Linked DNA regions of Homo sapiens. The protein of the gene in region 1 purifies or fractionates together with the protein of each later gene. This does not show direct contact. Each region holds a gene or a part of one and is shown in the gene's direction. Other genes may lie near its edges.

What was found.
Region 2: the proteins of DCT (region 1) and PLXNA4 purify together in Homo sapiens (affinity purification with mass spectrometry; 2 studies listed by BioGRID and IntAct, with this or other methods). This does not show direct contact.
Region 3: the proteins of DCT (region 1) and TXNDC11 purify together in Homo sapiens (affinity purification with mass spectrometry; 2 studies listed by BioGRID and IntAct, with this or other methods). This does not show direct contact.
Region 4: the proteins of DCT (region 1) and EDEM2 purify together in Homo sapiens (affinity purification with mass spectrometry; 2 studies listed by BioGRID and IntAct, with this or other methods). This does not show direct contact.

What each region holds. Positions count from the first base shown.
Region 1 is NC_000013.11:94,476,637-94,484,675, reverse strand, and holds the start of DCT (L-dopachrome tautomerase isoform 1 precursor), read left to right. Parts: upstream 1-4,993; 5' UTR 4,994-5,420; coding exon 5,421-5,715; intron 5,716-8,039. UniProt on the Homo sapiens protein: Plays a role in melanin biosynthesis. Catalyzes the conversion of L-dopachrome into 5,6-dihydroxyindole-2-carboxylic acid (DHICA).
Region 2 is NC_000007.14:132,573,457-132,581,050, reverse strand, and holds the start of PLXNA4 (plexin-A4 isoform 1 precursor), read left to right. Parts: upstream 1-4,580; 5' UTR 4,581-4,629; intron 4,630-7,594. UniProt on the Homo sapiens protein: Coreceptor for SEMA3A. Necessary for signaling by class 3 semaphorins and subsequent remodeling of the cytoskeleton. Plays a role in axon guidance in the developing nervous system. Class 3 semaphorins bind to a complex composed of a neuropilin and a plexin.
Region 3 is NC_000016.10:11,690,804-11,697,872, reverse strand, and holds part of TXNDC11 (thioredoxin domain-containing protein 11), read left to right. Parts: intron 1-5,790; coding exon 5,791-6,583; intron 6,584-7,069. UniProt on the Homo sapiens protein: May act as a redox regulator involved in DUOX proteins folding. The interaction with DUOX1 and DUOX2 suggest that it belongs to a multiprotein complex constituting the thyroid H(2)O(2) generating system.
Region 4 is NC_000020.11:35,123,289-35,130,357, reverse strand, and holds part of EDEM2 (ER degradation-enhancing alpha-mannosidase-like protein 2 isoform 1 precursor), read left to right. Parts: intron 1-3,982; coding exon 3,983-4,107; intron 4,108-6,323; coding exon 6,324-6,468; intron 6,469-7,069. Other genes in the region: MMP24-AS1-EDEM2 (ER degradation-enhancing alpha-mannosidase-like protein 2), read left to right, coding at 3,983-4,107, 6,324-6,468. UniProt on the Homo sapiens protein: Involved in the endoplasmic reticulum-associated degradation (ERAD) pathway that targets misfolded glycoproteins for degradation in an N-glycan-dependent manner.

The sequences.
Region 1 (8,039 bases):
AGACCATGGCATGGGGCAGCAATAGGGAAGCTCTCTGCAAGCCGAGGACAGAGGCCTTGACAGACGAATCCAACCCTGCCCATGCCTTGCTCATGAACTTTCAGCCTCTGGAACTGTGGGAAAGTACATTTCTGTTGTTTAAGCCATCTACTCTATGGCATTTTGTTATGGAAGCCAAAGCAAACTAATACAGACCTCAAAAGGCAATTCCATACGAATAGAAGAGCAGATGGGGATATGAGAGGCATCTGACTTTAAGGCAGCCTTGTGAAAGCTATATGAAAATGACATAAGGCTTTAAGTTGATTTCAAATGCAGTAAAAATAAAATACTTCTTGACTCTCCCTAAAGGGGCCATCCTCACAGAACCCCTGTCTTTGAGAGCAGCTGTCTTGCCCGCGGACTTGCTTTTTGCCAATGGGGTGGGAGCAGACGTGAGTAAGGTGGACCTCTTCCAAGTAGTGGCCCATCACTGACCTCTACTTTGACGCAAAATTAGCAGAATGAAAAGAATGAAAAGATGCTGTTTCCCCCTGGGTCCTGGAGTGAACACAGTGTACAGCACAGTCACAGCTGACATGTGGTGGATGTGCAGCTGCATAAGAAATAAACATTTCTTTTATAAGCCAAATAACATTTTGAGGTCTTAACTGCAGCGTGAGTTAGCCTGAGTGGATGTAGACAAAATTGATGAGGTGATGTGACTGTCTAGCAAAGCTTACAAGGTAATTCTTTTTCGGTTATCTTTGCTTAGATCGTAGCAGGAACATTGAATTAAGTTATGGGAAACCTGCATTCAGAGGTCAAATCGTGAACTGTGTTGTCCGTAAAAAAGACCATGCTGATGGGGAGATTTAAAACTAAGTCATATGGGCCGGGCACGGTGGCTCACACCTGTAAACTCCCAGCACTTTGGGAGGCCGAGGTGGGAGGATCACCTGAGGTCAGGAGTTTGAGACCGGCCTGGCCAACATGGTGAAACTTCGTCTCTACTGAAAATACAAAAATTAGCCAGATGTGGTGGTGGGTGCCTGTAGTCCCAGGTACTCGAGAGGCAGAGGTAGGAGAATTGCTTAAACTGGGAGGTGGAGATTGCAGTGAGCCAAGATTGCACCACTGCACTCCAGCCTGGGTTACACAGTGAGACTCTGTCTCAAAAACAAAAAACAAACTAAGTCATATGAAAGAAAATGAAAAGGAATGGAGAATATTTAGTCTGGAAAAAAAAAAAAGGGAGAAACGCCTGTGGGAAATGGACTGTACCCGGTCTATGGAGCCTGACTGGGTTACCAAAGGCTTTTGATGAAAGAATTGGGGAAGGAAATTTTTATTTAACATTTATGTTTAAATTTACATTTAAATTATACTTACTGTTAAAAACTTTTTTTTGTTTATTTATTTGAGACAGGGTCTCACTCCTTTCTGCAGGCTGGAGTGCAGTGGTGCAATCACGGCTCACTTGTAGCCTCAACCTCCTGGACTCAAGAAATCCTCCTGCCTCAGCCTCCCTACTAGATGGGACTACAGGTGCATGTCACCATGCCCAGCTAATTTTTGTATATTTAGTAGAGATGGGGTTTCACCATGTTGCCCAGGCTGATCTCAGACTCCTGGGCTCACGTGATCTGCCTGCCTTGGCCTCCCAAAATGTTGGGATTACAAGGCATGAGCCACTGTGCCAGGCCAAAAACTTATTGAAAAGGAAGAATTTCCTCACCCTTAGAACTGTTCCTGAAATGTTGTGAGAACCTCCTCACTAGTGATATTTTGTTGGAAATACTGAGGGGGGAGTTCATGGGTTGTAGTGATGTTGGGTTGGTGGTTTTCAAACATTTGCAGCAGTTTAATAAAACCTAATATGAAACCCCCAATATAATAGTGGTCATTATAAGCCTAAGTGTTTTATATATTCAAAATAAAAGCATTTAATTTGTATAAAGCCAGTCACTATAATAATGAGGCCCTTTTGATGAACATACAGTTTTGAATTGGGAATATTTATTCATCAACTATTTATCAAGTAGTCTCTATTTGCCAAATACTGTTGCACATGTTGGAAAAACACAGCAGAGTTAAGGAGCTTATAGTCCAGTAGATGAGACAGTCTTTCAGCCACCTAACCAATAAGTCAGATAACTTTAGATGGTGATAAGTGCTATGAAGAAAATAAAATAAGGTAATGTGGTAGAGAGAAGGTGGCTGGCTGTAGACGTGTTAAAATATCATGGAAGGCCTCTCTGAGAAGCTGAGGGCTCTGAGCAAGATTATTCCAGACAGAGGGAATGGCAAGACAAAGGCCAAGGTGGAAATGAATGGGGGCATGTTTGAATAATAGTGATTGCAATAGTCTGCCATCCAGAAGAAGAGATTGAGAGGCAGGCGAGGGAAAAATCATGGAGGATCTTTTAAGCTAGTTCTCAAACTATCCATGGTAAATGATTAAAAAAGAAAAATGTTCCAGCCACAGACTAACACGTGATCCAACTGCACATGACTCATTGCATTCAGCCTGTGCTCCGTGATCATCACCATGCACGTTTGGCAACCTCACAGCCGGACTCTCCCCTCTTGAATGAAACTACTGATCGTATGCCTGAATGTTATCCCAATGTCAAATTGCTATGAAAATTTCCCAGTGTTGACTCTCAATTTCTATTCTTATTGTTCTTAACTTGATGTAAACCAGGAACACACCATTCACGGATCTGTTGGCCACACTTTGAGTAGCACATGCAAAGCACCTCGGATTTTACTTGAAGTGCATTGGAAAGCACACATGGGGAGGTGGGAAAGAGAAGACTCAAAGATCACTTGTAGGGTTGTGGTGATGCTGCTCTTTGTGGAGATGGAGAAGACCAATGGAGAACACATTTGGGAGGAGAGAGCAAAAGTTCTCAACTTGGGTGAGAAATATCTAAACCTTCAAGTAGAGAGGTCCAGTAGGAAGTTAGATAATATGAGTCTGGGGCTCACAACTGAGGTCAAAGTCAGAGTTGTAATTTTGGAAAGTCATGATAGCCTGCATTTAAGGCCTCAGACTAGCTGAGTTATCTAGCAAGTGTGGAAATGAAAGAAAAGAGATCCTAGGACTTCGACCTGGGGCATTCTGACATAAGAATTATTGACTCCATCAGTTTTAACATCCAAGAAATTTTATCTTAACATTTATGGAGCCCCAAGGCTTCACAAAAACCTGGAATAAAATTCCCAAGTGTCACAATGCTGGCATGAAGTGGCAGTCAATAAATATACATGGAATGAATGAATGAGCTCCAAAATAAAGGTTTCAAAAACCCCTGAGATTTTGCGATTTTAGAACCCCAAGTTTCTTCCCACCCATGATGTGTTAGGTTGAATGGTGACTTCCCCAAAAGATATGTCCATGTCTCAGAACCTGTGAATGTGACTTTGTCTGGAAAAAAGAGTCTTCTTTGCAGATGTAATTGAGTGAAGAATCTTGAGATGAGATCATCCTGGATTATCTGAGTGGGCTCTACATCCAATAAGTGTCCTTATAAGAAACAGACATGGAGGAAAAACACAGACAGATGGGGAGAAGGCCATGGGGCTGTGGCAGACATTGGAGCTGCGGTTTCAAGCCAAGGATTGACAGCAGCTGCCAGAAGCTTGAAAAGGCAAGGAGGATTCTAGCCTAGAGTCTCCAGGGAGAGTGCAGCCGCCTGGCTGACACACGCCAGTCCTGCCAACACCTTCATTTTAGACTTCTGGCCTTCAGAACAGTGAGAAAATAGATTTCTGTTGTTTTCAGTCATCCAGTTTGTGGTCATTTGTTACAGAAGCCTCAGGAAACTATTGCACATGGTCTCTTTTAGCTGATGCTGATGCAATATTTCCTTTGGAGCTCTGCTGTATTCTGATTCAGTGATTCTCAACTCTGGCTGAGCATTAGAATTGCCTAGATGTTTTCTAACAAAGGTTGGTTGGTGTCTGGAACATCCTCAGAGATTCTGATTCAGTAGGGCTGTGGTACAGGCTGATATTGGTGTAGAGTCAGACATAAGAATTGCCATTTAATTAGTCACAACAACTTAACATCAAGGGGTGGCACAGAGGTACAGGGGGTGGGAATACCTATATAATTGTTTCACCTTAGGAATTTGCTTTGAAACATAACAATATGTGTCTTTACATTCAAGTATATTCTTAGAAACTAGCTGAAGCCGTTTCGCATCCTTGTGGCACTAAGTCCTGTTTCCACTGTGAAACAGTTACCAAGACAGTCCTGTTTCCACTGTGAAAAAATAAATGGATGTTCTGACAGGTGGCCACCATTGCTGACCTGACCATTCTCCAGAAGCACCAGGAGGCATTGCTTTCTAGACTGAAGCTCAGTCATGCTTCACTTTAGTCTAATCAAAAAGATTTGCTTGCAAGCCTTCATTCCAAATGGTTCCAGTGCCTTCCATACAATCAGATAATGACAATTGTGAGTTTCTGGTGGCATGCTACTTCATGTAATTAAAAAAAAATTGCTGCGTAGATGTGCTGAATAGGAGAAGAGTAAGTTATTATTTGGAGGGAAGAGGATTCCCAATTGTGGAACAAAGCAATTCCTTGTACCCTGGTTCTACATAAATGTTTCTTTATTTTTGAAGTTGCATGACCCCCTGTTGTGGTCTTTTTTGCACACATGTCAGAAAGCAGCCATGAGTGCATTGTAGTTGGCAATGTGAGCTTCTGTGTAAAGGGTCTTTGACGAAGAGCTCACTGCATCTACTGACTCCCCAGGATGTCTGAGGTCACAAGTTTGGCTGGAGCACATGAGCCCAGATAAAGAAGATGGTTTTGCCCTCCTGAAATAAAGCCAGAAGTGATCTCCTTTATTGTGCACTTTGGGTCATGTGCTAATGATGAGGGTTTCTGTAATACTAATCCCCCTAATGAAGGCTTCTCCCAGCCCTTACACAAGCCCCCAAGGCCCCGTGGCTTGGCAAGCCAGAGAGAATAAAAGCAGCACGGTGTTTGGCTTTTGAACTGAGTTCAAGGCAATTAAAGTCAAGAGCTAAGGAGGGAGGGAGAGGGTTTAGAAATACCAGCATAATAAGTAGTATGACTGGGTGCTCTGTAAATTAACTCAATTAGACAAAGCCTGACTTAACGGGGGAAGATGGTGAGAAGCGCTACCCTCATTAAATTTGGTTGTTAGAGGCGCTTCTAAGGAAATTAAGTCTGTTAGTTGTTTGAATCACATAAAATTGTGTGTGCACGTTCATGTACACATGTGCACACATGTAACCTCTGTGATTCTTGTGGGTATTTTTTTAAGAAGAAAGGAATAGAAAGCAAAGAAAAATAAAAAATACTGAAAAGAAAAGACTGAAAGAGTAGAAGATAAGGAGAAAAGTACGACAGAGACAAGGAAAGTAAGAGAGAGAGAGAGCTCTCCCAATTATAAAGCCATGAGCCCCCTTTGGTGGGGGTTTCTGCTCAGTTGCTTGGGCTGCAAAATCCTGCCAGGAGCCCAGGGTCAGTTCCCCCGAGTCTGCATGACGGTGGACAGCCTAGTGAACAAGGAGTGCTGCCCACGCCTGGGTGCAGAGTCGGCCAATGTCTGTGGCTCTCAGCAAGGCCGGGGGCAGTGCACAGAGGTGCGAGCCGACACAAGGCCCTGGAGTGGTCCCTACATCCTACGAAACCAGGATGACCGTGAGCTGTGGCCAAGAAAATTCTTCCACCGGACCTGCAAGTGCACAGGTGAGGCCCATGCTCCAAGCTTGGTGGGGAGGGCCAGAGCTGGGGAAAGAGCTCCTTCTAAGGAAGAGATGAGACTCTTGACAGAGACTCTTAGATTAGGCTTTGAAAGGCAAACCAATGATGGTTTTGGTCGGAAGCATATTCAATAAGGCTGATGTGCTGGTTTATTCTTCACACCCTCTAGTACATCTAGTTATGAAGACTAAATAAATATGGCGTGGGCCAAGCCTGCTTATATGAATGCATGCCAACATACTATTGGCTTGTTTGTTGGAAGGGGAATTTAAGAGCTTAAAAGCGTCAGCTTTGAAACTCGGAGCAAGTCCTTTCAAGATGGATTCGGTGCCCTCTCCTGAAATGGGTTTGCACTTGTTGAAAAGGGATGGGTGAAGCTTGGCATTCGGAAGACAGGAGTCAAAGGCAGGTGTTCTGGTCTCAGCATTTCTCATGATTTGAACAGATCTCTCTCTCTCTCTTTTTTTTGGAGATGGAGTCTCGCTTTGTCACCGTGGCTGGAGTGCAATGGTGCTATCTCAGCTCACTGCAACCTCCATCTCCCGGGTTCAAGTGATTCTCCTGCCTCAGCCTCCCAAGTAGCTGGGATTACAGGCACCCGCCATCATGCCTGGCTAATTTTTGTATTTCGAGACGGGGTTTCACCATGTTGGCCAAGCTGGTCCCGAACTCCTGACCTCAGCAGGGTGCATGTTTCTCATTAAAGCTTATGACCAGGTTGTAACTTTGACAAAATTGTCGAGACGTGGCAAGACAGAGCTTTCTCGAGGAGCTGGGGGTGGGGGGGGCGGGCGGGGGGTTGTTATTAGATAACAATGGCTTTTTGTCACTCTTCTCTGGACTTGAACCGGACATCACAAAATTTGCTCAGTGTCCTTCCTTTAGACTCTGGTCTCTCTCATTACCTGTTGCTTTGACATCTCTGTGCATTTCTCATTCCTCTAGCTCTTTGGGGCTTTTTCAAATCCTCTTCAATCTTTCCCACCTCCAGTTTCCAGCAGCCATATGCCCTTCGGGAATAAACACTCAAAGCCTGGCAGGGGGCCACTGAAATACAAAAAACACAAGTGGCAACCTCAGGAAAGCCCTTGGACACTGTTGTAGGCTGGGTGGTTGCAGAAGACTTTTTCCTTTTAAAAATACTTTTTACTTCTCTTCTCATAGGATGCTGGAACATAGGAGGATATAGGTCATTGAGCTTCATAAGGGGTTGAATAGGTATTACTAAGGGAACATACAAAGGCCTGTGATGTTGGTGTAGGAATGACATTCGATTTTTTTTTTTAATTTTAACTTTCAACTTTATTTTAGATCCTGGGGATACAAGTGCAGGTTTGTGACATAGATATATTGCACAGTGCTAGGGTTTGAGATATGATTGATCCTGTCACCCAGGTAGTGTGCGAAGCACCCAGTGGGTAGTTTTTCAACCTTTGACCCCTCCCTCCCTCCCCTCTCTAGCAGTCCCCAGTGCCTATTGTTGCCATCTTTATGTCCATGAGTGCCCAGACATTAGATTTCTTTTTTCACATTAAGAGTTCTGGCTTTAGGCCTGGTGCAGTGGCTCACGCCTGTAATCCCAGCACTTTGGAAGGCTGAAGTGGGTGGGTCACTTTGAGGTCAGGAGTTTGAGACCAGCCTGGCCAACATGGTGAAACCTTGTCTCTACTAAAAATACAAAAATTATCTGGGTGTGGTGGCAGGCACCTGTAATCCCAGCTACTCTGGGGGCTGAGACAGGAGAATCTCTTGAACCCAGGAGGCAGAGGTTGCAGTGAGCAGAAATCACACCACTGCACTCCAGCCTGGGTGACAGAGTGAGATCTGTCTCAAAAAAATAAATAAATAAATAAATAGTTCTGGCTTTATAATCATTTTGTAGTAATATTTTTAATTCTGTCATTCAGAAGAATATCTAGGTCCTGGTTTTGCCCTGGGTATTAATCATGACAAAAATTTCAATAACATATTGGATATATATTATCCAGCTTTTCTAAGTTTTTTAAGCATTTGCTTCTATAGACCTTCTCTCAAAATTATCATGGTGTTTTAGACGAATGAGGAGCAGGTTGCTGGTGTGGTTAGCGTGATTGAAAACCACACTAACACAGTAACTTCTTTGTTCAAAACCCCAAAATACTTCTAGAACAATTATTTCTATGTCAATCAATGAAAAAGTGCTGGCCAAGCGCAGTGGCTCACGCCTTTGGGAGCCAAGCACTTTGGGAGGCCAAGACGGGTCAGGAGTTCAACACCAGCCTAGCCAACATGGTGAAACCCTGTCTCTACTAAAAATACAAAAATTAGCG
Region 2 (7,594 bases), on another chromosome or scaffold:
CTGCTGGAGTGTGCTGTGGACATGTGGTGACACATGCAGAAAGCAGGGGCCAGAGGGCACCCTGGCCTCACCTGTGTCACTGCGGAAGGCTCCTCTTGCCTCCTCTGCTGAGCTGTGGGATACTGATGATATTCCTGCTGTCCTGCAGGTGGCGCCACAATTTAGGTTTTTAAGCTGCTGACTGCCTGCCTGTGGTTTTTCTATCCAGTGCAAGGTACAAGACCCAGCCATGGGGGCAGCTCTTGGGGGAAAGAAAATGTCTCTCTAGCACCACCAGGCTCTGGTGATTTATTTAACGAGCAAATCTGGCTTTTATCAACTTAAATAGCAGCACTGTTCCTAGGCTAATAAAATGGTGGTAGCTAAGTGAGGGGAAACTTAAGAGTTTCTTCTCCTCTTTCCTATTAAACTGGTCCTTTTATTCAGCTGTGGGAGATGAACCAATACTTTTTCTGTCTAAACCCAGCAATAAACCCCAACCCAAGTCCCACAGACATAGCTTCTTTAGAAAACAGGACTCTCTGAAGCAATGTGCCATTTAGCTTCTCCCTCTTGTGGCCATGGGTCCAGACAATGACATAACCAGTTTCACGACCAGGCAAGAGGTAGAGGGAGTGACTCACAGAGCCATTGTCAGTAGGGGACACCTAGATGGTCCTACTTGTGTCTCCCTTAGCCCTCACCAAGGGAGAGGGGGTAGAGGAGGTGTGAGAGCCAGAAGATCTTGTACCTAATGCAGAAACACATTTTGAACTGTGGTAAGATGCTGCTTTTGCCTGTGTATTTATTCTTGGGGTGGGGACAAGATAGCAGAAGGCCTACCCTCATTGTATCATTCTATTTGAAAAAAATAAAAAGATACATTCATCTGGAAAGCGACTCTAATTCCCTACATGTGTTTTGTACCTACCTTAGAGTTTCAAAGCACATTAATAAGATGGTATGTCCTTTGAATGTCATTGCAACTCTAAGGGGCGAATGTGTCAGGTGAGAGATGAGGTATCATTGAGAGGACGTGACCCGCTCCAAATTGTAAAGCTGGCCAATGACAGAGCCAGGAGTAGGACATGTGTTTTCTAACTTCCAATGTAGAGGCCCTACTCATCCCACCCCATTCCATTCTCCTAACTTAAGGGAGTCAATCCAATGGGTCATCACTGAAAAAAAAAAATCCTCTACTGCAGCTAATTTGACCCTTTCTACTCCTCCTTCCGATAATATGATAACTGCCCCCTTTGGTATGCCTTTTACCGTGTTATTCAGTGGAAGGCAACCGGGGAAAGGCAATTTGAGATATGGCCCCTGGCCCCATTAACAACGGGAGAGCTCGCTGGGCCCCTCACCTGCCCGTGGCTGGTCCAGCTTTTTGCTGTGTGTCTTCCCTGTCATTTGGCTCTGTTATTACTCTTCAGGCACCACATGGCATTCATTTCTTTGAATGAAAATAAATGACACCACACACTAGGCAGGAGATAAAGAATAATAAACACATTTTATTTGCCACCTCTGGAAAAAAAAAAAAAAAAAGGTCTTTGACTTCCCGTCCATCCATCAGGAAATGGGCCTGGAACTCAAGCCATATTCACACACACACGCACACACACACACACACGCACACACACACAAATACAACCGATATGAGGAGGAAAAAGACAATCAGATTGTATTAAAAATACATGCTAGAATGACTGAGAATTGAGACAGAGTTGTTTTCTCACCTTCCCCCCTTCCTTTCAGCATTTTATGACATACCCTGAAAGCTGAGTGGCCAACAGAAGTTTGAAAGGAGTCTCCCCCGCGCCTTTAATTGAACGATATTCCTTAAGTAACCCATTAGGGACTTTCATGGGGCTATCCGGGCTGTCACTTCTGGAAATGGGCCGTGATGGACCCATGCAGCAATTTTAAAAGGGACACCTAGAAGCAGTGTCAGGATCAGGTGATGCAAACCTTACATGGACCTTGGGGTGACAGGGCCTCCTTGGATTTTGTATCCTCAGTGCCCGGCTGGCCTTGTGCTAATCCCAGTCTTGCAGAGAGAGGCATTTGGCCCTGGGCTTCCTCCACCCTGGAAGGATGTTCAAGAGGCAGTAGCATTGAGTGATTTTGTTATGTGTGTCTCTGGACTTCTGAAACTAACCTGATATTGTGTGCTTTATCTAGAGTCTGGGATTCAGGGTTTCTGGGAAGAGTGGAGTCAGATCAATGTATTCATGTAAGCTTAATAAGATAACTCCTTGCTGCTTTCTGGGCCATGCAAGACTCAGCAGAGAACCAGAGACTAAAAGGGCTCCACGCTGTCTCCTGGAATATCCTTTAACCAAAGAATCAAACATGTGGTTTCCTCCTCATTCTGGCTTGGTTCATCTTCTCATTGGTGAGAGCAAAGTTTCAGCAGGGTCCTCTCTGGGTGGGCCAAGCCTGACCTATATGTGCCGCTCACCTTGGGGCTTGTTTAAGCTGTCATCTCACAGCTCCTTTCAAAGGCTCCCCAATTCACACAACTTCGATTTCTGTGAGAATATAACCCCTATAGGGAGGTATAGGCATTTAAGCCATTATCAGTCATGTCCACCTAATAAGGAGGCTCTGAGATGTTTCGATGGGAGGGACAGTAATGGGCGGGAGTTTCTGGGTGTGAGGACAGTGAAAACTAAAGAAGGGACAGGAGAGAGGAGGCCAAGAGCCATGGGCTCCTTTAGAGGGTCGTCCTTGCTGGTTGCCTATCCCAGGGAATGCTTACTGGACTCTGCTGAAGGTGCCACTTCCCTCAGACTATGGTGGGAGCGGGTATGAGGATGAGGGTGGCATGCACAGAGTTGAGTTAACAGGTGTGGGAATCCCTTCGGTTTCTCTTGGTGGGTGGGCCCATTCCTAGGGGGATCTAGGCAGAGGTTTGGGAGGTAGTGCCACCCACTCCCCATCTTCACTGCCTAAACCAGAGCTACATGGTGATTTCTTTCTTTGGGCTTCAGAAACCACCCTGATGTTGGCATGGTCTGTTCTGGATGTAGTCTAGGATCTAGGGTTTCAGAGAAGAGAGGAGCCAGGAGAGCCGCTCAGTATAAACATGAATGGAAAAGTCAGGTTACCAAGCCAGCTCTGGGGCACTGGCCACTCATGTTCTCTCGTGCGGGCCTTGTGCCCTCAGTGTCCTCGGCCTCCTTGGGTGCCATGTGGGGGTGACTTGGTGGGGTGTTGGGAGGGGTTCTGACTAGCAATGGGTGTATGCCTCAGAGTCAGTGTGCGCTTGTGTCAGCTCTGAGCACCTGAGGGTCCCTCCGACGGCCAGCGCCCAGAGCTGCAAATTCCGAGGCGGCTGAGCGCCTCCCTCTGAGCGCGCGCCGTGCGCTCCGGTCACCCATGTATGCCCCTCTCTCCGCCCCACATCGCCACCGCCAGGGTAGCTCCGTGCGGGCCGAGGGGACCCAGGGGGGTGTCGGCAAACGTTGGTGCGGAGGAGAGCCGGCAAGCCGGGCGGCGGCGGGTGGGAGCATGTAGGGAGGCGCCCCCTGCCCCCTCTGCCGGCCGCTCTCCCTCGCTCTAGATGTCAGCCGCGAGCTCCGAGCCAGCGAGAGCGAGCCAGAGAGGGAGCGGCGGCGGGCGGCGGGCGGCAGGGAGGAGAGGAGGCGAGGCGAGGGAGGGAGGAAGGGAAGCAGGGAGGGCGGGAGGGAGGAGAGGAGGACCCAGAGAGCGCCAGGCAGCTGGAGTTTTTGCAGCGCTTGGCCGGGCTTCAATGCACAGCAGCAGCGAGCCGCGGCGGCAGCAGGCAGCCCGGGAGCTCCGGCGGCGGCCGAGCCAGCGGCGGCCCCGCTCCCTGCCCCCTGCAAACTTTGCGAGCAGCCCGCCCGGGGGGCCGGGGGCGCGCCCGGGAGGCCCGGCTCGGCCCGCGGCCGAGCTCTCCGCCGCCGCAGCGCCAGCCGCCGCAGCCACCACCGCCGCAGCCCCGCGCCTCCCCGGGGAGCAGCCGGCGGCTCCCGCGGCCCCCCAGCCCCGGCCCCAGGGCACTGCCCGGCGAGTGTCTCGGCAAGGGTGGGGGCTGCCGCGGCGCGGCCGGCCGCGGGCTGCCGGGGGGCGGCCGCCGCTACCCAGAGAGGCGCGCAGAGGCGCCGAGAGCGCTCCCCGGCGGGTCCCCCGCGCACTCGCCGCGCCCGGGCAGCGGCCCGACCGGGCGAGCATGGGCGGCGCGGAGTGACGCCGCTGTGCCCGCTTGGCATCAAGGACATTCAGCCCGCGGGGGTGGGGACGAAGGGGGGCAGCCCGGCGTCGCCACCGCAGCCCCCGAGAGCCGCCGCCGCTGCTCGGGCTCCGGGGCTGGGTGGAGGAAAGGGGTGTTCGGAATCGATCCCCATTTTCCGACCTTTTTGTTGGACATTACGCCCACCTTGGACGCCGCAAGAGAAGCTGTCAAGCCCCGCAGGCTCTGATTCGGCGCCCTCCGCGTTCCTCGGCTGCTCCCGGCTTCCCTGTGCCTCGGTGGAGTATTTGCGTTCGGGGCTGGGGCTGGAGGAGGCAGCCACACGCGCGCACACGCACACGTTCAGAGGAGGGCGAGAGGCAGCGGCATAGGCTCCATCTGCAGTGTCAATGCGGCGCTCCCGCTGAAGGAGGGAAACGCGGCGCGTCCAGGTAAGGAGCCGGCCCGCCGGGGAGTGGGGCCGGGCGGGCGGCGAGGGCAGCAAGGTCGGACAGACCTGGGCCGACCCGGGAGTCCTCAGTGTCCCGGAGCCAGCCCGCGGCACACGCACACGCACACACGCAGGCACACACACAGATCCACACCGGCACACACGGCGCTCGCGCACCTGCCCACGTCCCACCTGGACGCCCGCGGAGGTGCAGCGGCCGGAGCAGGGATTTCCCGGGTGTGTTCTCCTCTCACGCTCCTGGACTCAGACTTCTCTTTCCCGGGACTTTCGGGGTGGGATTCTGTGTATTCCCGGCTCTGCCTCCCACCCGGGGAGGTTGAGGGAGCAATTTTTCAGCTCCCAGCCCCTTTCGTCCCTAGCTGGGCTTTAAAATGGGAGAAGTCCTGAGAGGTTTCCGGAGACCTACCCAGTGTCATCGCGGCCCCGTGGCCTTTGGACACCCTGGGATTTCAACGGGAGACAGACCCACAGATATTCGGACGCATATTTGGAGAGAGTGGTGGCCCAGCGCCCGGGGAGGAGGCCAGATAGGCGGTTGGGGCTGCAGTTCTGTAGGGCGGCGCATATGAAACAGACACTGCGTTTCCCCAGTAAGAGGCAGCACAAACGCCTTTCTGAAGCGTGGCACTGCTTCCCCGGGAATGCGCCGAGATTTCAGGCAGAAAGCGGCTTAAAGCATCGCCGCGTATGTTGCTTGTCTAGGGAAGGTACGGGGGTCAGATCCTCCTTAAAAGGTAAGACCTTATTCACAGCCTCAGTGCCTGCTTAGCAGCAAGCAGACAGGACTTGGAGACACAGGACTTGGGTCCCCTCTCACCTCCCTACCCTCCCTGGGCACATGGGGCTGCCTTCCCCGGTGCCTCCGGCTGGCGAACACCTGTCACATGCCTTTCGTGGTGTGTGTCTGAGAAAGAGAACTAGAAGGGGGAAGCACGAGGGATATAGTCCTCCAAAAGAGGAGGCTCCCCTCCCTCACGACCGTGGCGGCACTGCCCACCGGAGAAGGCAAGGCATTCGTGGGTCTGCCAGCGTCCCCCAGAGCCCAAGCCTGCTCCGATTGTAGAATCACTCCCCAGACGCCCGTGCTTTAAGGTCCTATTTCCCGAAAGCATTTTCATTCTTGTTCTCTCTGGCTGGAATTTCACAGGCTGCTCATTTTAACTTTTTCTGGAGGAGGTAGGAAGTGGCTGGGGTTCTAAGAGGCTTTTCCATAGTTCCCTTCTTGGGGTCTAAGAGCAACTAATTTAGGGTCTCAGTTGTCATAGGGAGAAGAACATGAGATCCAAATCAAATTCGGAATTGAATATATATGTACAAGCTCCTGTGTTTCTGGTGCTGTCACTTTGAGGTAGCTTTCTAGGCAACATGATCATATCATTTTCCCACAAAACTGAATAAGCTTGTACCCTCTGTCCAAGATCATGTGTTCAGAGTATCCCACAGACCCACCAGTGGAAAAAATATGTTAGGAGCCTTACAGAACATGATGGAAGAGGAGCAAACATTCTTTTGAACAAGGAGGCCTCAGTGCTAGGCTCAGAATTTGGGTTGTTTTTGTAAATCCTGAAGATAGGGGCTGAATGAAAGGGCTTTTTCAGCACCCTGACTCCGCTATTTCCAAACTTTTTTCAGCTCCTGCAAAGGTCTCTGGCTAGGCTGGGGAGAAGCGCAGACACCCCGGGAGGGAGATTGTATTCCCGCTGTGTGCTGTGTGAGCTGCCCTTTGATTGATTGAAAAGCATAGATGGAATAAAGCAAATCTCTCACAATGGAGAGACCCCAGTAGGGGGAAGAAACCTTATTTGCTTTTTAAGAATGGTGGGCGTGTGCACACACACACCCAATATATATACACACATGCGTTCTCAGAGTCTGGCTAAATGTGGTCAGCTCCCCGCCCCCGCCATGTGTGACAATGGGGTCCACCTCTGTCTTCCGGGCTGTGGAAGAAATGGAACATTTCTCCCCACATGCCCCTTGAGGGCGTGGACAGGCAGATCCCACCTACGCGTACAGCAGCACATGGTTTGCAAAAGAAATAATGAGCTCCAGCAACAGTGGGTGCCTCCCAGGTAAACAGTCCCTCATGGGACCTGGAAGAGGCAAAGGGATAGGGTACAGGATCTTCCTGAAATGTCTGTGTCTTCCCTGTAGACCTCCACTCCTTTCTCTGCTTTCCTCCCTACCCTCTTTCCTTTCTCATGTATTCGCAGCCTCAGGATCCATCATTTTAATGCAAAGCTAGTATCATTATGCTGGTTATAAGCTAAACATCTGGGTTCAGAAAATCTCTGCACTTTCTGCACTTAGCATTAGGTACCAATTTGGTTTCTAGGACAAGGCAGGCATTAATTAACATCTCTGTAAAGCGGAGTATACATTACGTTTTCCTGGCTCTCTTGCCCAGCCCTGGAGCATGCCACGCTGTCATTCACCCTCTCTGCCACTCTTCTGTGCCCTTCCTTTTAAGTTCTCTGAGGTCTTTCTCACTGGGAAGGGAGTCACACTAGAAAAACCCCAGCCATGAATGCTTCTTTTCAGCAGACCCTCGCTGCCTGGTAGACGGTGCTTAAGGCAGCTCTCCTGTGAGCACTAGGCATGGGTCACCTACAAGCTGCTCCTTCTTACCCAATCACGCCTCCCCGGGCTCTCATCTGTCCTCCCAGGACTTCCTCCTGGATGCCCACTGGGACACTGCAGACATTTCTGGAGGACTCCAAGGCAGTCAACTTGTTTCCTTTCTCCTTCTCTGTGCCTTCCTGTCGCCTGCTGCTGCTACTCCCTGCAGACAGGGAAATCTGCACGGCAGAGTCTGCCTACATACACTTGGCCTCGGGATCCTTTTCATCACAATGAGGGCTGCTGGGAATGAAGTGGGGGCTTTCTAGGATGGCAGCAGTCCCGAAGTGGGAGAGAGCTAAAGGGGCTGGGTCATTAACCACTCT
Region 3 (7,069 bases), on another chromosome or scaffold:
GGGAAGCCACACCGTGCCCTTCTAGAGAAGGACCAAATGCCCTCTTCTGATGTGGCTGCTGTTGAGCTTCCTGTTTAGGGGGTGAAACAGGGAGTGGCAGGAACACAGGCCGAGTTTAGTGTGGCCTAGGAGATGCCATTGTCTTGGGGGTTTGGCCAGACTGCCAGCCCTGGCCATCCTCAGGACAGCAGAGGAGAGCGAGCAGCAGCAGCGATGTTGGGACACCTTGTTTCTCTGAACCTTCCCTGTCGTGCAGAAGCCAGAGTGGTTTTCAGAGGCAGCGCCATCGGAGCCTGCTGTTCCTGCCTGTCTTCGGCTTCATCTGGTGCGCCTGCTCTGGGCGTGAGTTTATTTTCCACACGGAGCATTTGGAGGCGCTCAGAGACAGCAGGCACATTTTGCAGAGCGAGCCTGGAGAGACAGCAGGCACAGTATGCAGAGCGAGCCTGGGGTGGCAAAATTGCATTTACTGAGGTTTTTATTTTTTCACTCCCTCAAGGATCCCTTAATTGGCCAAAACCAATTTCAGACAGCCAGTGTACCACTGGCCAGCTAAGCAGACCTGAGCCCCTCAGCGCTGGCCTGGCCTCCTGCCTGGAGGGACAGGGAGGCAGGACTTCTCGCCCAGGTGGATCCCTCCCTTTGCTGTGCTGGAGTCTTTTTGCTCAAGTTATGATTCCCTCTGGGGAGTATTCTGAATGAATGCTGCTCTTTGGTTTAGAGGAAGAAAGAGGAGAGAAATGAAATAGCTTTGTTTCTTCCCCTCTAATTAGGGAGGACTCAAAGTAATAAAACTATTTCTTTAGAAAATTTTCACTACATGGATATTTTGTGAACTGAGGCACCATTTCAAATGACTAGGCCTTTACTGTATCTAATATTAAGAGCCTTAAAGCTCATTGTAGGAAAGGAAGGTTTTCGGTCAAGGTGGTGTGGCTGTGGTTGTGGATTTGGAGAGTTCTCTCCTGTCTGGTTTGGGTGTGTCAGGGTCCTGGCTGGGTTGTATTTTGTGGCAGGAGCCCACAGCCTCTGCCCAGAGGGTTGTGGTTGGATTTAGGCACCTGGTGGGAAGACTCTTTCTCGCCTGTTGTTTCTGAATGAGTGTCCCCTCCAGCAGTCTGCAAATCCTCCACCTACCAACAGGCCTCCTTTTTATCATGGTTTTGCCTGTGACTCCTTTCTTTGGGGCTCCCATTGTCTCTGTGAGGTGAGTGCGTTCCCTTAACTTCAGCATGTGGGTGAGATGACCGAACACGAGGTGGCATCTCACCGTATTATGAATTACTCAGACAAGCAAAGTGCCTGTCCAGCACATTTCCCTTTTTGTTTCAGGTCAGTTTGGCAAATGTTTACTGAGCACTGTGCTGGGAAGCTCCAGGGGAGAAAGGATAGATGCGACACCATCTTGTCCTGTGGTCTTAGAGGCTTGTCCAGTACAGGGAGTGAAAGCCTGCCTATAATTCAAAGTAGAGGACGATCAGGCCCAGGGTCAGGAGGAACCAGAGGAGGGAGGGTGCCATCTCAGAAAGCGGGGTTCCGGGCAGGGGAGGAGTTAGCAGAGGCTTTGGATGGGTGAAGTATTCGAGACGGACTTGTAGGGGCAGCCAGGATCTTGATGGGTTGAGAAAAACTTACGGGAAGGAGGACCCTGAGCAGAGACATGAGGGACGGGAGTTGCTGCAGGTTTAGGTGTTAGGAAGGAGGCCGGGTTTTGTGGTCTGCAGGAAGGGCTAACTGGGGAGAGATCTTGAAAAAGCCTTTGGAGGAGAGGGCCTTGTGGACTTCTCTGAGGATTTCAAGATTAACCATAGTCATCCAAGTCTTTGTCTTCTCTTTTTTTTTTTTTTGAGTTAGGGTCTTCCTTTGTTGCCCAGGTTGGAGTACAGTGGCATGATCTCGGCTCACTGCCTCCTGAGCTCGGGTGATCCTCCCACCTCAGCCTCCCAAGTAGCTGGGACTACAGGTGCACGCCTCTACGCCTGGCTAATTTTTGTATTTTTCTGTAGAGATGGGGTTTCGCCATGTTACCCAGGCAGGTTTCAAAAGCCCTGGGCTCAAGCGATCGGTCTTCCTTGGCCTCCTAAAGTGTTGGGATTACAGGCATGAGCCACTGCACCTGGCCCATACAAGTCTTACTGACAGTGAAGAGATGCAGCCAGGGCTGTGCGTTATCATTACGAACGTTTTTCTGGCAGGAGGGTTCCAGAAAACTGCGAAGTAGTAAGAACCTGAACTTGGGTGGTAGAGGTGGAGGGTGGAAAGTAGGGTCTATGATCGGGGAAACTGTGACACAGTGACTAGAGATGAAGAAGCCTTTGGGTAAGGTGGGAAGGATGAACGCTGTACTTACGCAAGATGAGCTGTAAATTCATTAGCTTGTTGACCACGAAAGAGTTAGGTGGCTTTACTTTTTCATTACCACCTTAGGCCTAATATTGGGCAGAACTTTGAGGATGCTTGCATTGTTGAGAAGAGAGAGGTCATCTTAGAGTGAGTGGAATAGAGTTGGGGGCATACCAAGCACCAACATTCTGGACAGTTGTGCTGTGGTGCATGTAGGATGCCAGTCAGGAGTGACCATATGGTGGCCGCACCAAGCCCATAGTGGGTAGCTGCTTCTACACACATGCATACCTGCATGTGTACCCACACACACATGCAAAAGTACAGATCCTGACACTGGCGTGAGGCCACTGACACCCTGGTGTCTCTAGAGAGTTCTAGAGAGGTTATAAGACATCACAGTGTGTATTACACAACTTGTTAATCAAAGGAAATGCTTACCTCAGCCAGCAAAGAGTCTTCGTGACTTGTTTCCTATTTTAAAGGTGTTTATTTGAGGCATTCACATCGTCTGAATCTGGTAAGCAAAGGCGTGGTTAGCATGTTCAGGCTCACAGATTTCCCTGATTAAAGAAAATAGAAGGAAACATCTACTGTGCGAACAGTTATTTGCCAAGATTTCCTTAATTATTCACATGAAATAAATGACATCAAGTGATACACAGAATGTGACATGAGTTGTGTTTTCAAAACTGCCTGTTAGGTAAAAGGAATAGAAACATAAATTCCCCTTCATAGGAGAAAAATGATAATGCCTAACTCTTTAAGAGCATTGCTGGCTGGGCGCAGTGGCTCACGCCTGTAATCCCAGCACTTTGGGAGGCTGAGGAGGGTGGATCACATCACCTGAGATCAGGAATTCAAGACCAGCCTGGCCAACATAGTGAAACCTCGTCTCTACTAAAAATATAAAAATTAGCCAGGCATGGTGGTGTGCGCCTGTAGTCTCAGCTACTTGGGAGGCTGAGGCAGGAGAAACGCTTGAACCTGGGAGGCAGAGGTTGCAGTGAGTCAAGATGGTGCCACTGCCCTCTAGCCTGTGCAACTGGAGCAAAACTCCGTCTCAAAAAAAAGCATTGCTGGTCGGGCGCGGTGGCTCATGCTTACAATCCCAGTGGGATTACAGCCCTGGGAGGCCGAGGCAGGTGGATCACCTGAGGTCAGGAGTTCGAGACCAGCCTGGCCAACATGGTGAAATCTCGTCTCTCCTAAAAATGCAAAAAATTAACCAGGCGAAATAAAAATAGAAAAAATTGGCTGGGTGTCGTGATGCATGCCTGTAATCCCAGCTACCTGGGAGGCTAAGGCAGGAGAATTGCTTGAACCTGGAAGTGGGAGGTTGCAGTGAGCTGAGATCATGCCATTGTACTCCGGCCTGGGCAACAAGAGTGAAACTCTGTCTCAAAAAAAAAAAAAAAAAAAAAAAAAAAAAGCATTGCTGTAGACAGAATACTTTCTTCAATTAAAAATATTCTTTACGTGGCTGCTTTGTTTATGAGATACTGAAGCTAAAAGAGATGAAGAAAGATTTTTCAAGGAATTTTCTTCTCTATAATATAATTAATGATCTCCTACTTGGACTTCTGTAAAAGATTACAGTAAATCGTGAAGTCTTATGGAGGTTTTTGCGGGAGTGGGTGGGAGTAGTTGTCTATTACTGCGTCTTTGAATCTAAAACAGTACCAGGATGGGGCCAGAGGGCATCTGGGCTCTTCACGGATTATATAGGCTTGACCTTGTTAGTACTGCATGCTGTCAGAGCCTCATCCAAAAACCACTGAGATGTTTTTGTGCAGGGGAAATAAAATTTCAAGCACTGGCCTATCATCTAAAGTGACTTCTTTTCTTGACCCAGTAGTTTTCTGGTGGGTTATAAAGTGACTTTTTTTATGCCGAGAACTATTGAAACAATTTATTTTTGTGTACAAATATGTATGTTTTGAATTAACTATAAATATTACGTTATAAAACTTTTTTATTTTTATTTTTATAAAACTTGTGTTTTTAAATTGGAAATTACACTCATTGAATTGTTTTACACATGCAGACACACAGACACACACACACACACAGCGAAACAAAATCCTGAGTGACAGCACCCTGTAACTAACTGTGGTGAGATTTGATTCAAGTTGACAGACTCTTCTGTTTTAGAGAGTAAATGCCTTTGGATTATAACTTACATGTCTTTCTCAGGAAACCAGAATGGGAGGTGGGTAACGAAATATTCTTTTTGGAAATGGAAGAATCTTAGAATAAAATATAAATTCAAATTGCCAATACTGGCTTGACGGTAAAGTGGCAAATCTCACCAAGACAGAGGATTGTGTGCATTACCCTGAGCTGCCACTCATTCATCAGGGGTTTACTGAGCATTTGTTATGTGCCTGGCCCTGTGCTAGGCCCCGGGGATGGCAGGATAAATCCAATGTGGCTTCTGCCTGTGAGGTTCTGTAAGTTTGTGGGGAAGAGGGATGTCTCAGCAGAAGCTTGTGAGACTGTAGAAGGGGTCTCAGGGACACTGGAGGTGCAAAAACTAGCTCTTCCTGGAGTGGGAGTAGGACTAGCTTCCCTGAAGCAGCTGCCCTGGTGCTGGGCCTTGGGAACAGATGGAGGAGCCGGTGTCCCCAGCCAGGACTCCGTAAAGGTGTGGCATTGCAGGAGGGCCTGGTCTGTTCTGAAGAGGGTAGGGTGAGACTGGAAAGCCAAACGGGCCAGATTGTGTGGAGGTTTTATCTCATGGGCAGCGTACCATTTGGCCCAGGAGTGCCATGCCTGGGGTTGTATTTTTAAAAATATAGTAACCATCTCCCCCTGCACTCTCATCTACCCTGCTGCGTATTCTTGGTGATACGTTCCAAGACCCCCAATGAATGCCTGAAACCACAGATGGTACTGAACCCTGTATATACTACACACGAATTTCACTTTTCTTCACAATTTCATGGGTAGAAGATTCGTTCTTACCGAAGATCTTAACATCCTTACCTCTTTTTTTTTCCTTATTGAGACTTTTGCCGTTTCACTTAAAGGAAGCATTTTTGGCTTCTCTTTGGCATATCTGAATTGCCAGCATCACTATCCTTACACTTTGGGGGCCCTTCTAATAAATAAAGGGTTACTTGAAGACAAGCACTGTGATACTGAGACAGTTGATCTGATAACTGCGTTGGCTACTAAGTAACAGGCTGGCAGCATCCACAGCATGGACACGCTGGACAAAGGGATGGCTCGCAGTTTTTGTAATGGCAAAAATTTCATCACACTACTCAGAGCGACATGTAGTTTAAAACTTACGACTTGTTTATTTCTGGAATTTTCCATTTAGTATTTTTGAACCGGAGTTGACCATGGATAACTGAAATTACAGAAAGTGAAACGTGGCTAACGGGGTGCTAGTCCCTCAGTCATCCCCAAGCCCTTCACCAACTCTGCCCTGTATTTCAGATCACCGAAGTGGCCTTGGAGTACAACAACTGTCATGGGGACCAGGTGGTGGAGCGTCTCCTTCAGCACCTGCGGCGGGTGGATGCTCCAGTGCTGGAGTCCCTGGCCCTGGAAGTGCCGGCACAGCTGCCAGACCCGCCAACGATCACAGCGTCCCCCTGCTGCAACACTGTGGTGCTGCCCCAGTGGCACTCCTTCTCCAGGACCCACAACGTCTGTGAACTCTGTGTCAACCAGACCTCCGGGGGCATGAAGCCGAGCTCGGTCAGCGTGCCACAGTGCAGCTTTTTTGAAATGGCAGCAGCTCTGGATTCTTTCTACCTCAAGGAGCAGACCTTTTATCATGTGGCATCAGACAGCATAGAATGCAGCAATTTTTTAACTTCCTATAGCCCCTTCAGCTACTACACTGCATGTTGCAGGACCATAAGCAGGGGTGTGTCAGGCTTCATCGACTCTGAACAAGGTGTCTTTGAAGCCCCTACTGTTGCATTTTCTTCCCTTGAGAAGAAATGTGAGGTTGATGCCCCAAGCTCCGTTCCTCACATTGAGGAGAACAGGTATCTCTTTCCAGAAGTGGACATGACTAGCACAAACTTCACAGGCCTGAGCTGCAGAACCAACAAGACTCTCAACATCTACCTTTTGGATTCAAATTTGTTTTGGTTATATGCAGAGAGACTGGGTGCTCCGAGCTCCACTCAGGTGAAAGAATTTGCGGCAATTGTTGACGTGAAAGAAGAATCTCATTACATCTTGGATCCAAAGCAAGCACTGATGAAGCTCACCCTAGGTACTGCAGGCAGTTTATTTCCCCAAGCATTGTACATTTTGCTTGACTTCATATGGGTAAATTTTATTGATGGCTCTCATTACATTTAGTTGTGGGGTGATGTCACCTTCGTAGCTCATTTTAAGTCTTTAGACCACCATCAGTCATAATTTTCAAAGAAGCTAATTTTGTCTATTAAATGGAACAGAAACTTCCTCACTCTGAATTTTGGATAAGTTTGTCATTTAGCCCATGGTGGGGGTAAGAGTCCCACTTTCTAAATTGGCGATTTCTGTCACATGTCTAAGGTAGAACCAGCTGCAGGCAGTGGGGACTTGGGGACTAGAACAGGCAGGGAGGTGGAGAGCTATTCTGGTGGGATGTCCTAGGGGCTGATGAAAGTGAGCCTTGACAGCAGCTTTGTTCTAAAGGAGCTTAAAGAGAAAGCAGTGGCCGGGCGCAGTGGCTCACGCCTGTAATCCCAGCACTTTGGGAGGCCGAGGCGGG
Region 4 (7,069 bases), on another chromosome or scaffold:
TGGCTCATGCCTTTAATCCCAGTGCTTTGGGAAGCTGAGGCGAGAGAATTGCTTGACCCCAGAAGTTCAAGATCAGCCTGGGCAACATGGTGAGACCTCGTCTCTACAAAAAATAAAAAAAAATTTGCTGGGCATGATGGTGCGTGCCTGTAGTCCCCACTACTTGGGAGGCCAAGGTGAAGGATTGCTTGACCCTGGGAGGTCAAGGGTGCAGTGAACCGTGATCATACCACTGCATTTCAGCCTGGGTGACAGAGTAAGACCCTGTCTCAAAAATAAAAATTTTTAAAAATTTAATGAATTAAGAATTCTCATAGATGTGTATGTATAGGAAAACAGTAGTCACGCATTGCTTAATGACAGGGATATAGTCTGAGAATTGCATCGTTAGGTGATTTCATCATTGTGCAAACATCATAGGGTGTACTTAAGCAAACCTAGATGGTATAGCCAACTACACACCTAGGCTATATGGTGTAGCCTATTGCTCCTAGGCTACAAACCTGTACAGCATGTTACTCTACTGAATACTATAGACAATTGTAATAGAATGGTAAGTATGTATATAAACATAGAAAAAGTACAGTACAAATACAGTATAAAAGGGCACATGAATGAAGTTCACAGGACAGGAAGTTGCTCTGGGTGAGTCAGTGAGTGGTGAGTGAATGTCAAGGTCTAGGACATTACACTATTGTAAACTTTATAAATACTGTACACTTAGGCTATACTAAATTTATTTAAATTTTTTTTTCTTTCTCCAGTAATAAATTTTTTTTTTTTTTTTGAGATAGAGTCTTGCTCTGTTGCCCAGGCTGGAGTGCAGTGGCATGATCTTGGTTTACTGCAACCTCTGCTTCCCCAGTTCAAGTGATTCTCCTGCCTCAGCCTCCTGAGTAGCTGGGATTACAGGCGCCCACCACCATGCCTGGCTGATTTTTTTTTTCTTTAAAGACAGAGTCTCACTCTGTTGCCCAGGCTGGAGTACAGTGGTGCAATATCGGCTCGCTGCAACCTCTGCCTCCCGGGTTCTAGCAATTCTCCTTCCTCAGCCTCCCGAGTAGCTGGGATTACAGGTGCACGCTGCCATGCCCAGCTAATTTTTTGTATTTTAGTAGAGATGGGGTTTCACTGTGTTGCCCGGGCTGGTCTTGAACTCCTGAGCTCAGGCAATCCACCCGCCTCGGCCTCCCAAAGTGCTAGGATTACAGGCGTGAGCCACCGTGCCTGGCCTAATTTTTGTATTTTTAGTAGAGATGGATGGGTTTTCACCATGTTGGCCAGGCTGGTCTCAAACTCCTGATCTCAGGTGATCTCCACCCACCTTGGCCTCCCAAAGTGCTGGGATTAGAGGCGTGAGCCACCATGCCTGGCCTCCAATAATAAATTAACGTTAGCTTACTGTAACTTTTTTACTTTATGAACTTTAAAATTTTAAAAAACTTTTTGACTCATTTGTAATAATGCTTAGCTTAAAACACATTGTACAGCTATACAGAAATATTTTATTTATATCCTTATTCTCTAAGTTTTTTTCTGTTTTTAGTTTTTTATTTTGTTTTCACCTTTTAGACTTTTTTGTTAAAAACTAAGCTACAAACACACATTAGCCTAGGCCTAGGGTCAGTATCATCAATATCACTGTCTTCCACTTCCCCATGTTATCCTGCTAGAAGGTCTTTGGGGGCAGTAACACTCACAGAACTGTTGTTATCTCAGATGATTGATAACAATGCCTTCTGGAATTCCTTGAAGGACCTGCCTGAAGCTGTTTCATTTTTTTTTTTTTTTTAGACAGAGTTTTGCTTATGTTGCCCAGGCTGGAGTGCAGTGGCACCATCTCGGCTCACTGCAACCTCCGCCTCCCAGGTTCAATTCTCCTGTGATTTTCCTGTCTTAGCCTCCTGAGCAGCTGGGATTATAGGCACCCACCACTACGCCCAGCTAATTTTTGTTTTTGTTTTTATTTTTTTTGGAGACAGAGTCTTGCTCTGTTGCCCAGGCTGGAGTGCAGTGGTGTGATCTCCGCTCACTACAAACTCCACCTCCCGGATTCACGCCATTCTCCTGCCTCAGCCTCCCGAGTAGCTGGGATTACAGGCGCCCGCCACCACACCCAGCTAATTTTTTTGTATTTTTAGTAGAGATGGGGTTTCACCGTGTTAGGCAGGATGGTCTAACACTGACCTCGTGATCCGCCCACCTCGCCCTCCCAAAGTGCTGGGATTACAGGTGTGAGCCACCACGCCCAGCCGACTTTTTTTATATAAGAGGAAGGAGTTATCTAATGATAATAATATAGTAAATACATAAACGCGTAAATGGTTGTTTATTAAATATCACGTACTATACATAATTGTATGTGTTATACTTTTATGACTGGCAGCACAGTAGGTGTGTTTACACCAGTATCACCACAAACAAGTAAGTAATGCATTGCATTATAAAATTACAACAGCTGTGATATCTTTAGGCTGTGGTGATTTTTCACCTCTATTATAATTTTATAGGACCACCATCTCTACAGTTCAGTGTTGACCAACATGTTGTTATATGGCACATGACTGTATATAGAGTTTATTTAGTACTATCCATGGTTTCAGACATCCACTGAGGGTCTTGGAACGTATTCTCCTCACATAAGGGGGGACTACTTTACTCATTTATTCAACAAATATTTATTGAATACCACGGATGTACCAAGCATTGTGCCAAGCTCTGAACATGGACTGTTTCATATAATCCTTACAACTCCTGTTTGAGATTATCTTATTTATTTGCATGTATATTTGGTACTTTGTTCATTCAGAAAATGTTTATTGCTCATTGTACTAGTGTGGGGGATTCTGCAGTAGACAAAACAAAGTCCCAGGCCTCATGGATTTACAATCTAGGGGAGAGATATGAGGGATAAATTCAAGTTCCTACTAGAATGTAAGTTCTCTGAAGGCTGGATTTTGTCTTGTTTACAAACTCATAGGAGCCTGGAACCTAGTAGGTGCTTAGCGAATGTTTGTGGTATAAATAAATGACTGAAAAATTCCACAGATACCTAACATTACTGTATTAGACCATTTTCACTGCTGATAAAGACGTACTCAAGACTGGGTAATTTATAAAGAAAAAGAGGTTTAATGGACTCACAGTTCCACATGGCTGGGGAGGCCTCACAATCGTGGCGGAAGGCGAAAGGCACATCTTACATGGTGCAGGCAAGAGAGAATGAGAGCCAAGTGAAAGGGGAAACCTCTTATAAAACCATCAGATCTTGTGAGACTTATTCACTACCATGAGAACAGTATGGGGGAAACGGCCCCCATGATTCAATTATCTCCCACCAGGTCCCTTCCACAACACGTGAGAAATATGGGAGCTACAATTCAAGGTGAGATTTAGGTGGGGACACAGCCAAACCACATCAATTATTTTCTGCTTTTTTCTTTTTGAGATGGAGTTTCACTCTTGTTGCCCAGGCTGGAGTGCAATGGTGCGATCTCAGCTCACAGCAACCTCCGCCTCCTGGGTTCAAGCAATTCTCCTTCCTCAGCCTCCCAAGTAGCTGAGATTACAGGCATGCACCACCACACCTGGCTAATTTTGTATTTTTAGTAGAGACAGGGTTTCTCCGTGTTGGTCAGGCTGGTCTCGAACTCCCAATCTCAGGTGATCCGCCCACCTCGGCCTCCCAAAGTGCTGGGATTATAGATGTGAGCCACCACGCCTGGCCTCCCCATTTTATAGATCATAAGGCTGAGGCTTAAAAGGGAAAAACCCACCCCAGGTCACGGTTAGCAAGTGGTAGAGCTGGAGCTGGAATTTGAGCTGGAAGTTTGACTCCAGAATCCATGCTCTTGTCTAGCCTCCTTGCCTCATTGCATCCTGGTGCTCTTTCCAAAGTGTAAGTTCTCGCTTCCGCTGTCCAGGCCTGCCTTTTTTCTCCCTAATCACTCATATGTCCATTATCCCATCTCCCCCACTGCAGAGTATAACAAAGCCATCCGGAACTACACCCGCTTCGATGACTGGTACCTGTGGGTTCAGATGTACAAGGGGACTGTGTCCATGCCAGTCTTCCAGTCCTTGGAGGCCTACTGGCCTGGTCTTCAGGTAGGAATGATCAAAGAATGTGATCATCTTTCTATGAGTCTGGCAAAGCAAGCTCATTCTGATGTATAAGTCAAATAATGTACTTTGTTAATTGCTTGAGTACTTTTTTTGGAGGGACAGGTTGAGGATGGAAGAGAGACCTAGAGTGAATTAGATAGATTTAGAGTTCTGCCAAATTGAGTGTCAGGAACTGAGCTTCCAGTTTGCCATGGAGTGTTACAGTACTTAAAGTCGACAGTGCATTTCCAGTCTGGGCAGGAATGGCCATTGGCAACAGGTGTTTCTCCACTGGGCGTTTCTGTCCAATCTCATTCTTGACAGTGGGCCTCAGGAAGGGCAGGAAGCAGCTTGTGCCGCTGTGCCATCTCGTTGTTTTTCCATTACATGGTCTGGTAGAGTTGCAGCTGGAAGGATCTTAGAGCTTATCTAATCTACCCCACTTTGGTGTTCCAAAATAGTGCATGTACCAAAATGTTTTTATAATCTACGTTTTTAAAAGTTTTAAGAAAAAGTAGTCCCACCTGGGCAACATAGTGAGACCTCATCTCTACAAAAAATAAAAAATTAGGTCGGGCGCGGTGGCTCAGGCCTATAATCCCAGCGCTTTGGCAGGCCGAGGCAGGCGGATCACAAGGTTAGGAGATTGAGACCATCCTGGCTAACACGGTGAAACCCCATCTCTACTAAAAATACAAAAAATTAGCTGGGCGTGGTGGTGGGCGCCTGTAGTCCCAGCTACTCGGGAGGCTGAGGCAGGAGAATGGCATGAACCTGGGAGGCGGAGCTTGCAGTGAGCTGAGATTGCGCCACTGCACTCCAGCCTGGATGACAGAGCAAGACTCCGTCTCAAAAAAATAAAAATAAATAAATAAAAATAAAAATAAAAAATTAGCCTAGGGTGGTGGCACATGCCTGTAGTCCCAGCTACTCAGGAGACTGCAGTGGAAGGATTGCTTGAACCCAGAAGATCAAGGCTGCAGTGAGCCATGATCATGCCATTGCAGCCTGGGTGACAGAGTGAGACCCTGTCTCAAAAAAAAAAAAAAAAAGTGGCCACCGGGTTTCTATCCAGAATAACCAGGTAGACATTGTGTCATTTACCAAGAAGGGAAAAAGGCCAAAGTAGGGAGGCAATTTCGTGGGAAAGTAAGGGAACCAAGAATTTTGTTTAGGAAGTGCCAAGTTTGTTCTGTCCATGAGACATCCAATGAAGATGTCAGGGTCAGCTGCTTCCCTGTGAGATTACATTAATAGTAATGGCTACTTAGCAATAGTGGTAAAATTATAAATGCATATATCCTTTGACCCAGTGATCCTAATTCTGAAAATGTATCTTACACATAACATTTTACATCTATTTGATGTGACATATATACAGAATTATTTATTGCCACATTAGTTGTTGGAACCAATTCAAATAAAAATATCTGAAAGCCAAATTTCCATATCTAAAAATATGGAGATAATTAATATCCCTATTAATAAAGAACCAAAGGCTATTTTTTAGTGTGGGGAAAATAACATATACTCATGCATAAAGAAACTCTGAAAGGTTATACAAGAAACCAGTAATGTTTATCTGAGGCCAGGCAAGATGGGTGATGGTTGTAATCCCAGCACTTTGGAAGGCTGAGGTAGGAGGATCACTTGAGCCCAGGAGATTAAGACCAGCCTGGGCAACAAAGTGAGACCCCCATCTCTACAGAAAATAAAAAAATTAGCACTGGGAGGCTGAGGTGAGAGGATCTCTTGAGCCCAGGAGGTCAAGGCTGTAATGAACCGTGATTGTGCCACTGCACTCCAGCCTAGGTGACAGAGCGAGACCCTGTCTCAAAAACAAAAACAAAAATGGTTATCTTTTGGGGGTGTGGTGTGGGAGTGAGCCTTAGCACAAACTTTTCTCTATTCTTAGAATTTTTAACTGGCTGGCCGAATTCCAAAACTGTTAGCTGACATTGACTCTGAAGATTTAGGGACTTAATATACAATCTTTGTTCCTTCCAACAATGCATGAGATAGGTGGTGTATTTTACGTTTTATAGATGGGGCTCAGAGAAGTCCAGTGCCTGGCTCAGCACCACACTGAGTAACTGGCAGACTCAGGGATTGATTCAAGGCCTTTTTGGCCCCACAGATTTTACTTTGTCTTTTCTTAAGGTTGTCTGTGGGGTTTTATGCCTGGTGTCTACCTGCCTGACAGCCACTTTCTCCCACAGAGCCTCATTGGAGACATTGACAATGCCATGAGGACCTTCCTCAACTACTACACTGTATGGAAGCAGTTTGGGGGGCTCCCGGAATTCTACAACATTCCTCAGGGATACACAGTGGAGAAGCGAGAGGGCTACCCACTTCGGCCAGGTGAGCAGCATTTCTGGCTTGTCATCTGCCCACAGGCTCTGGTTGCTGAAACCCCAAATCCCCTCTACAAGGCTCCATCCTCCACAACTGCCCACAAGTTCATTTCTTTCCATCTGTTCCTTTCAGTGGCTCTGGGTGGTTTTCTTACTAGGAGTTAATTATCCCCATGTTTTCAGATATGGAAACTGAGGCCTAGTGGGATGAAATGGCTCGCCTCTGGCTCTTAAGTGCAGGAGCTAGGCCTGGAACCCAGGGCTCCTAACTAAATTGCATGCTCTTTTTTATTTTTATTTTTTTGAGATGGAGTTTCGCTATTGTTGCCCAGACTGAAGTGCAATGGTGTGATCTCGGCTCACCGCAACCTCCGCCTCCTGGGTTCAAGCGATTCTCCTGCCTCAGCCTCCCGAGTAGCTGGGATTACAGGCATGAGCCACCATGCCCAGCTAATTTTGTATTTTTAGTAGAGATGGAGTTTCTCCATGTTGGTCAGGCTGGTCTTGAACTCCCAGCCTCAGGTGATCCGCCCACCTTGGCCTCCCAAAGTGCTGGGATTACAGATGTGAGCCACTGCGACTGGCCCCATATGCTCTTTCAAATCAGG